2 linked regions of the Homo sapiens genome follow. The protein of the gene in region 1 purifies or fractionates together with the protein of each later gene. This does not show direct contact. Each region holds a gene or a part of one and is shown on either strand. Other genes may lie near its edges.

What was found. The genes of interacting proteins can lie anywhere in the genome.
Region 2: the proteins of TES (region 1) and PC purify together in Homo sapiens (affinity purification with mass spectrometry, with the first as the bait; one large-scale study listed by BioGRID). This does not show direct contact.

What each region holds. Positions count from the first base shown.
Region 1 is NC_000007.14:116,251,845-116,256,125, reverse strand, and holds part of TES (testin), read right to left. Parts: coding exon 4,151-4,281; intron 3,809-4,150; coding exon 3,650-3,808; intron 1,009-3,649; exon of another isoform or gene 1-1,008. UniProt on the Homo sapiens protein: Scaffold protein that may play a role in cell adhesion, cell spreading and in the reorganization of the actin cytoskeleton. Plays a role in the regulation of cell proliferation. May act as a tumor suppressor. Inhibits tumor cell growth.
Region 2 is NC_000011.10:66,849,809-66,854,089, forward strand, and holds part of PC (pyruvate carboxylase, mitochondrial precursor), read right to left. Parts: intron 3,576-4,281; coding exon 3,431-3,575; intron 3,029-3,430; coding exon 2,939-3,028; intron 2,853-2,938; coding exon 2,631-2,852; intron 2,139-2,630; coding exon 1,982-2,138; intron 1,473-1,981; coding exon 1,232-1,472; intron 1,116-1,231; coding exon 866-1,115; intron 657-865; coding exon 412-656; intron 309-411; coding exon 129-308; intron 52-128; coding exon 1-51. UniProt on the Homo sapiens protein: Pyruvate carboxylase catalyzes a 2-step reaction, involving the ATP-dependent carboxylation of the covalently attached biotin in the first step and the transfer of the carboxyl group to pyruvate in the second.

The DNA of each region.
Region 1 (4,281 bases):
TCTATAAGTTAGGTCAACCCAGTCTTCCCTGAGATACAATGAAAATTCTTTGATCAACACACTATTCCTGAATACTATAAAAATGAACGTTTCAATTACAAGCACATTTCTAATGTGCAGCTGCACCATGCAAGCAACTGCTTTTTGTATATATTTTTATAGCTTTATTATGCATTTAGAATGTCTTATTTTCTGCATTTCATATTAATCTTTCCATTTTAAAATTTATGATCAACACATAATTGTACATATTTATGGGTGTACTATGTGATGTTTCAATACATGTATACATAGTGTAGTGATCAAATCAGGGTAATTAGGATATCCCTCTCCTTAAACATTTATGATTTCCTTGTGATAAGAACAGTCTTTCAATATTTCTTGTTTATGTATTTTGAATGTGTTCTTGTAAAATACACCGTGTGTTTTATTCCCTTGCTTTCAGACCATGATCTATCTTCTTTTTCTCAGACCTGTGATTTTTTAAAATTACCCAAAACACACATTTTCAGTTGCAATTTACAAAAAAGAGATAACTAATGTTCAATTACACATGAAATTAAGAAAATTAAGCAAAAAGATAATTAGTACACATAAATGGTATAGAGAATTAAAGTCTGGGGTTTCATAAAATTTCATTTTACTAATAATTTGATTACCATTCATTCAAAATCTGACATGTAATCACAGGTCGAATCTACTGTTCCCTAATTCCTCAAAAATCTAAAATTGGCCCAGGCTGCGCCAAGGGCCTGGGGACTGCAGAACCCTTCAGGGAGATGATGTGCTTCACCACTTCCTGCCTGCCATTTGATCTTCCCATGTTCCTAAACCTTTAATATTTCAAAGAATTCTTATTTCCTTCAATCCCTCTTCTTATTTGTACACAGGATGTAAAAGAGCTAATGACACCTGTTGTAATGAGCTCTCTGCAGGAGTGTCCTATGAATCTGACGGATGTGAATTCTGGGGGTAACTATGGAGTTCTAGTGACTACACAGAGACAAAGTAGGTGCATCTGCCATGTTTTTTCCTTCCAGGTACTTTTTTTTTTTTTTCTCAGAAATGTTGTTTGGAGTTGAGCACTTGATTTCAGGTCTAAAAATAATTTGTATTTTCTCTCTTTAAGATGAAAAGATCTAAGCAGATCAATGCCCTGAACTAGATAACCTTCTCCAAATTTTATATAATGTAGCATGCTGTGTGGGTAGCTCTCTTTGCTGTTAGCTGGAATCTGTTCTGGCAATGGATATGTATGCTCATTTTAATATTAGGCAAAGGCCAATGGTATATCCCACTGAGAAAGTAAACATAAAAGAAATGATGCTACACACACACACACACACACACACACACACACACACACATATATATATATTTTTTTTGAGACGGAGTGTCGCACTATCAATCACCTGGGCTTGGGGTGCAGTGGCAGGATCTCGGCTCATTGCAACCTCCACCTCCCAGGTTCAAGCAATTCTCCTGCCTCAGCCTCCCAAGTAGCTGGAATTACAGGCACCTGCCACCACGCCCAGCTAATTTTTTTGTATTTTTAATAGAGACGGGGTTTCACCATGTTGGCCAGGCTGGTCTCGAACTCCTGACCTCATGATTCGCCCACCTTGGCCTCCCAAAGTGCTGGGATTACAGGCGTGAGCCACCATGCCTGGCCAAAATGATGCTATGCTATAAAACTAAATAATTTGAAAATTCTTTTATTTAAACAAATCATATCTGTGGTTATACCCTGCCATTGATTAGAAACAATGTAATACAGAGAAGCTTGTAACAGCTAAAAAAAGAAAAAAAAGCAGTTTCATCTGTTTCAATAAATTTTTATTGAGCACCTATGTTGTCCTAGTGTTGGGAACAGAATAGAAAAGGCAGATAAAAAAATCCCTGCCCTGATGGAGTTACATTCTAGTCCTTGAGACTAAAGGTCAGACAGCAGCAAAAAAAAAGGTATACATTATAATACCTTTAGTCTGTAGAAAAACTGTTGCAACAATATTCATTGAAGCAGTTTTTAGCTAAATAATGTATCAGGTTACATGGTGATTTGACGTCTTGTTCCCTAGGTAAAGGAATGACCATGGTAACCCCAAAGCGAGAAATATTAAGAACACGAGTCAGTCACTCAAACATTTTCTAAGTGCTGACACTGAAGATATAGAAAGCAAGATATAAGGCAAGCTCTACCCTCCAGCTGCTTACAGTCTAGTGAAGGAGACAGATGAATGATATTCACACACACACACACCCCCACACACCCACCCACACACACACCATTGGGAACATGGAGAGTCTGGAGGAAATGGTGGAGTTTGGGCATAGTGAATCAGGAAAGGTGTTCCGAAAAAAAGTTAAACCTAAACTGAATCTAAAGGAATAAATGTGTAGGTACAGTCAGGTAAAACAGGGAAAAGTACGGTGTATTAGAAAAACTATTAGGAGTAAGCAAAAGACAACAGTGTGTAAACTAGAAAATGATGGTGAACGTGTGGAAATGTATGATTTGCGTTGGATAACTAGTAGAAGGGACAGGAGAGGCAAGAAGGGGCCAGATCTATCAAAAGTTTAATAATTTGCATTTTAGGAAGATAATTTTCCATCATTATGGTGGGTAGCTTTTGAGCAAGATGAATGAAAGTGGAGGAACGAAATTTGAGGCCACTGCAATAGTCAAAATAACAACAAAAAAAAAGGTCTAAAGTAGAATGGTTGTAATTATAAGAATGTGAAATATATTGGTGAGGCACAGTTGATAGAGAATGAATAACTGTATCTGGGGCAATGGGTGAACGCTGAAAATTGGCATTGACATAAAAACTTGTTACCTTATCTTCACAGTACCACACTCTTATAACTATATATAACTATATAAACCATATGTAATTTCATTCCTTAGCCAGGAGTCCCTTTTACTTGATAGCTCAGGGGACCATTAACACATATGTGTTTTGCTGCATATAAAGAAGTAAATGTCTATTTGGATACTCCTGGATTATACACTTTACCATCTATGGTCAACTTTTTACCCTTTATCTACATTACCATCACTTGGCCATTATACAACAGCAGCTCTGTGTAAGCAGAGTAAATGCAAGAAAAAATATACTTTCACATTGGAATGTTTGGCCCACACAAAAATCTAAATACGCAGGCCAAGTTTTGTTATGCTAAATCAATTCAATGAGGGTTTAAGAAATAGGTATCTTACAATCTCCAGGTAGCAAAAACAAAATTCCAGTGGGTGGTCCAATAACACAAACAGAAAGCATCATATTCAAATAGAGCTAAAGAATATCAATAGCCCCTAGACACCTTTATTGAAATGGAATCTGATTGCTAACCATGAAAATAAAACAATCTCATTCCCATTAAGAATTTTTTTAAGTGAGGATTTTATTATTAAGCAGTACCTATAATTGATATTGTAAATTTCACAAGTAGAAATCTTGAGGTGGCTCATAGTCAATGCATGTATTGTTTTTGAATTGCCTTGATTTTAACACCCTGTGGTAGGAATAATTTGCTTTCTACTTAGGAGGACTGCTTTCTGTTTCCCATTTGTAAGAGGCTTTAAGAAAAGCATAAACTCAAGTCCTAAAGCAGGCTGAGGCAACCATATCCTTAGAACACTTCTCACCACAGCGTGATTCTTCACATAGCAGGGCTTGCACACGGGCTTGTCATTGACCATCACGTATATCTCCCCAGCTAGAATGCTATCACAGTCAAAGCAGCAGAAGTGTTTCAGGTGCCAATTCTGGTTTTCTGCCTGGGTATACTCATTGCTGAATATCAGCTAGGAAGAAGATAAAAATAAAGATGGATTTTTATATAATAAGAGATTTATATCTGTAACAACATACTTTCTCAGGGTCTAAAGTTTGAAAATGATAACCTAAAGCTTGAACTTATGCTATCACTTAGTTTAGTCTAAATCAATCTTTTATATTTCTAGTCTTTCATTTGTCAACCCAATTAACACAGACAGAATGAATGATATCAGAAGTTTATTTTTTAAAACTTCTTTGGATGTAAACAGAGCAACTGCTGTTTGGTCAAGTCTTGTTGCCTTCTAGGTAAAGGGACCATATGAGGGTCTAAGAGGGCACCAGCATGCCGGTGGTCCCATAGAACATACCTCGTCACAGCCAGCACATCGGGGTTTCTCGCTGTCACAGTAATGTCTGCCACAGTATAGCTTCTCATTCTTCCAAAAATAAATCATGTCAACCAGGAGTTCATGGCAGGTGCTGCAGACAAAACAAGCTG
Region 2 (4,281 bases), on another chromosome or scaffold:
AGGGAGGGAGGCTCCAGGCCGCCCCTCCACCCTTGGCAGGTCCTTCAGTACCTGGGGAGCAAAGCAGAGGATCAGTCCCAAGTCCTGCATCCAGCCCCCACCCTCACACCATGCTGGGCCTTCCCTACCTTAGAGCGAAAGGGTTCGGGGAACCCCCCATGGGGGACACCGATGTAGCCCTGCAGGAACTCCACCACGGAGCGGGGAAAGGACAGCTCTTCCGCCTGAGCTTCGGCCTCTGCCCGGCTCAATCCATTCTGCACCATAAACTGGGCCAGGTCCCCCACGATCTTGGAGGAGGGCGTCACCTGAGGAGAAGGCCCTGGAGGTTAGGGTGCCAGGCACCTCAAGGAGGCCAGTGGCAGGTGCATGCAGGGCTGGGTCAGGTAAGGAGCACCGGGCCGGGCTCACCTTGATGAGATCGCCCAGCATCTGGTTGGCCTCCACATAGGCCTTCTTGACCTCCTTGAACTTGGAGCCAAGCCCCATGCTGTGGGCCTGGAAGTGCAGGTTGGTGTACTGGCCCCCTGGGATCTCATTTTCATACACGTCCGAGTTGCCAGACTTCATGGTGGCCGTGCAGTCGAAGGCCGCGTACAGTCCCCGAGCCCCCTCCCAGTACTCACTGTAGTCAAACACGCGCTCCATGGGCACCTCTGCAGGGAGGCCAGAGTCAGAGGAGGCCTTAGAAATGTGTGACTCTTCCAGGACCCAGGGCTAGCTCAGGTCCCATGTCTGACTCAGGTGACAGAAGGCGGCAAGGCCAGAGCAGGGCATCTGGATCCTAGGCAGGTCCAACACTACTGGGACTGGTGGTGGCTGCGGCTTTGAGAGGGGTGTGGCCACGGGCTGCTGTTCTTCCTACCTGTGTCCAGGGGAGTCCCTCTGGTACAGGCCACCAGGGCCCCCATGCTGGGCTGTGAAGTCATCCCAGACATGGAATCAGCTGCCACATCCACCACATCAGCTCCAGCCTGGGCACAGGCCAGCATGGCTGCCACGCCTGCCCCTGACGTGTCGTGGGTGTGGATGTGCAGTGGGAGGTCGGGGAAGCGGTCCCGGAGGGAGCTGACCAGCATGGTGCAGGCCGTGGGCTTCAGCAGCCCGGCCATGTCCTGGGGGAAGTGGGAGAGAGAGAGAGAGAGATGGTAGAGAGGGCAGGATGTGTGCCTGTGGGTGGCGGGGACATGGCCGGGGCAGAGAGGGAGGGACGGACAAGTGGCCCAGGCACCTTGATGCACAGGATGTGGGTGCCAGCTCGCACCAGCTCTTCGGCCAAGCCCATGTAGTACTGCAGTGAGTACTTGGTGCGGCTGGGGTCGGCCACGTCGCCCGTGTATGAGATGGCAGCCTCCACCACGCCTCCGGCACTTCCTGCCGCCTCCATGCCCAGCAGCATGTTGGGCAAGTAGTTGAGGGAGTCAAACACACGGAAGACATCCATGCCATTCTCTTTGGCCACTTCACAGAACCTGCAAGGGTGAGAGAGCCCAGGGCTGAGCCCCACCCCACCTCCCTCTGAACAGTCTTCCCTGGCTCCTTCCTGACCCACTCTATGGCCCCTGGGGAATGAGATCTGAGGGTCTCGCCTGGCAGGGGGTGTGGCATCCACAGGCGGGGGGTGGCCACACAAGTGTGGACCAGGCCCTGGAGGATCAGCTAGGCCAGTGGCAGGCTGTGGAAGAGGGTACTGAGCAAGGAGTCTTGAGGCCTGGGTTCCAATCCCAGCCCTGCACCGAGTGACCCAGGCAAGTCTCAGACCTTCCACTGCCCCAGGAGTGAGGGAGTGATTTAGAAGCCTGTCTGGTTCTGCAACTCCAATTTTACACTTCTCGATATTTCCAAACAGCAGCCCCTGCTGCGTGTGGCCACAGAGAGACTTGGTGTCAGGCTGACCGTGGAGAACAGAGGCCATCACGACATGGCTCGGTACCCTCTGGGCCACACCAGGTAGCGTCTGCCCACCCCACCCCAGGCTCACTTGAAGACCACGTTGTCTGGGTAGTTGGTGTAGCCCACAGCATTGGCCCCCCGCAGCAGCATCTGGAAAGGGATGTTGGGGATGAGCTCCCGGAGCTCCTGCAGCCGCCGCCAGGGGCACTCATACAGGAAGCGCATGGCGACGTCAAACGTGGCTCCTGCACAGGAACCGAGAGGCCCAGATCAGCTCTGCATGCCTGGGGAACTCCACCAGGCCTTGGAGCTAGCTCTGCAGCACAAGCCTCTGGCCCCAATACCAGGTCCTGCTCATCTTCGCCATACCTGTGTTCCCTGCTCCAACCCCCACAGATTTTTCCCTTGTCTGATCTCTAAGGGGGAGACCAGGCTCATTTGTGTCCCTTCTATGCCCCCTTTATAATCCCATCTTCTCCTCTACCTCTCTGTGCTATAATTAACAGGCAGGTGTCTCCTCCTGACCCTGGACCTCCCAGGATGCACCTGGTCTCAGCTCTGCAACCTCGTGCCGGCACCAGGCCTGGCCGGAGAGGGCGCTGTGCCTTCTTCGGTCCTTCCTCTTTGGTGTTCTTCGTGTCAGCGTCTCTAGCTTGTCCCCAGTGGCCTAAGCCTGTGGGACTGGCCACAGAGCGGGCGCCCATTCCTACCAGGCGCTGCGCAGCATGCCAGCCTACCTCCCCAGTTCTCCATGCTGAAGAGCTTGCTGAAGTTGTGGGCAACATAGGGGGCGATCTTTTTGAGATCGTGGGTGCGCACACGAGTGGCCAGCAGTGACTGGTGGGCGTCCCTGAAGGTCGTGTCCATCAGCAGCAGCCCCGGGTGGTTCCGCACAGCTCGAGCAAAGCCCTCAGGCCCCTCTCGCAGCAGGATGTCTCTGAAACCAGCCGGGGGCGGGCCTAGGGTAGACAGGGGCATTGGTGCCCATCCTGCAGGTGGCAACCTCCTGTCTCCCCCATGAGTTGACAGAATGGATCTCACCTACCTATGGGCACTGCAGGGACAACGGGGTCCGTGGGGCTGGGGCTGGCCTTGACGGGAATCGGGGTGGTTGGACCGTTTACCATGACATGGCCTGGGGAGAAAGCGGGCAGTGGGTCAGGGTGGGCTGGGCAGAGGCTGAGTCGAGGGCAGCAGTGAGAGTGGCTGGGCTCAGGGACAGGGACACATCCCTCCAGGATCCCCGGGCTTCCAGCTGGCCCCTGTCCTCTCCAAAGCCAGGGCCTCCTGGGTACAGGCAGTGGGGACGTCTTGAGGACCACGTGGATGGAAAGGTGGGGTCTCTCAGATCAGAAGCAAGGAGAGCAGTGAATGGCAGGGTGCAGGACAAGAGGACGCAGGGCCAGAATGAGGGCAGGGGTGAGGGGCAGGGGGCACTAAGGAGTTCTTTGGTCATGGGGAGTGGCAAGGAGGTAGGAGCAAGAGATTGGAGAGCGGAGGGGAGGGGAGGGCAGGGCAGGGCAGTCTCGGGCCAGACCGAGGTAGTGCAACAGCTTTTGGGCCCGGTTCTGTGCAGGCCGCAGCTGGAACAGCTCTGGGTTCTCGTCGATGAACTGGGTGTCCACAGTGCCTGCCAGGAACTGCTGGTTGTTGAGCACATTCTGCAGGAAGGCGATGTTGGTCTGCAGGACAGAGGCGGGTGGGAGGGGGTCACCATGCAGCACAGACAGGGAAGGCAGAGGAGAAAAGGCTGAAAGAGAAAAGGCTGAAGATGCTGCCCTGGGCCAGCACAGCTTCTGGGCCTCCCTGCAGAGGGGCACTTCCCCGTCCCTCAGCCCTCTCCTCACTCCAGCAGAGCCCCCTAAGCTGTCACGGGCTGGGCCTGCTCCCTCCATACTTGTTTACACCAAAGCATGTGCTGAAGGCCACCCTTCCTGCCTCCCCGCAGCCTAGAACAGGGCTCAGCCTTTTTCTCCAGCAGCGTGGCCCACAGCAGTCACCCTTGCCCCTCGTCCACGCTTCTCGAAAGAGGGCCTTGACCGCAACAGACCACACTCTGGCACTCTAAGTCACTCCTCCCAGCTGAGTCCAGCGGGCATGCTCCCGCCTTGCTGCTCGTTCCCTGGGCTTCCAAGCCATCTTGCTCTCCTGTCCTCTTCCTCCCCAGCTCCTCACACACCACATGCTCCCCAGGAGGCCCCGTCCCGGGGCTGTGGCGCCAGTGACAGGCTCTGCCTCCAGGGCAAGACCCAGAGGTGCAACTGCCTCCCGGGCCTTTCCTTGTTCACCCCTCGCATAAGTTCAGCAAGTCCACGGCCAGCTTCCTGCCTATGCACCCAGTCCTCCTGTGCCCAGTGGGTGCCCCACTGTCCCCCCAGTTACCAAAAC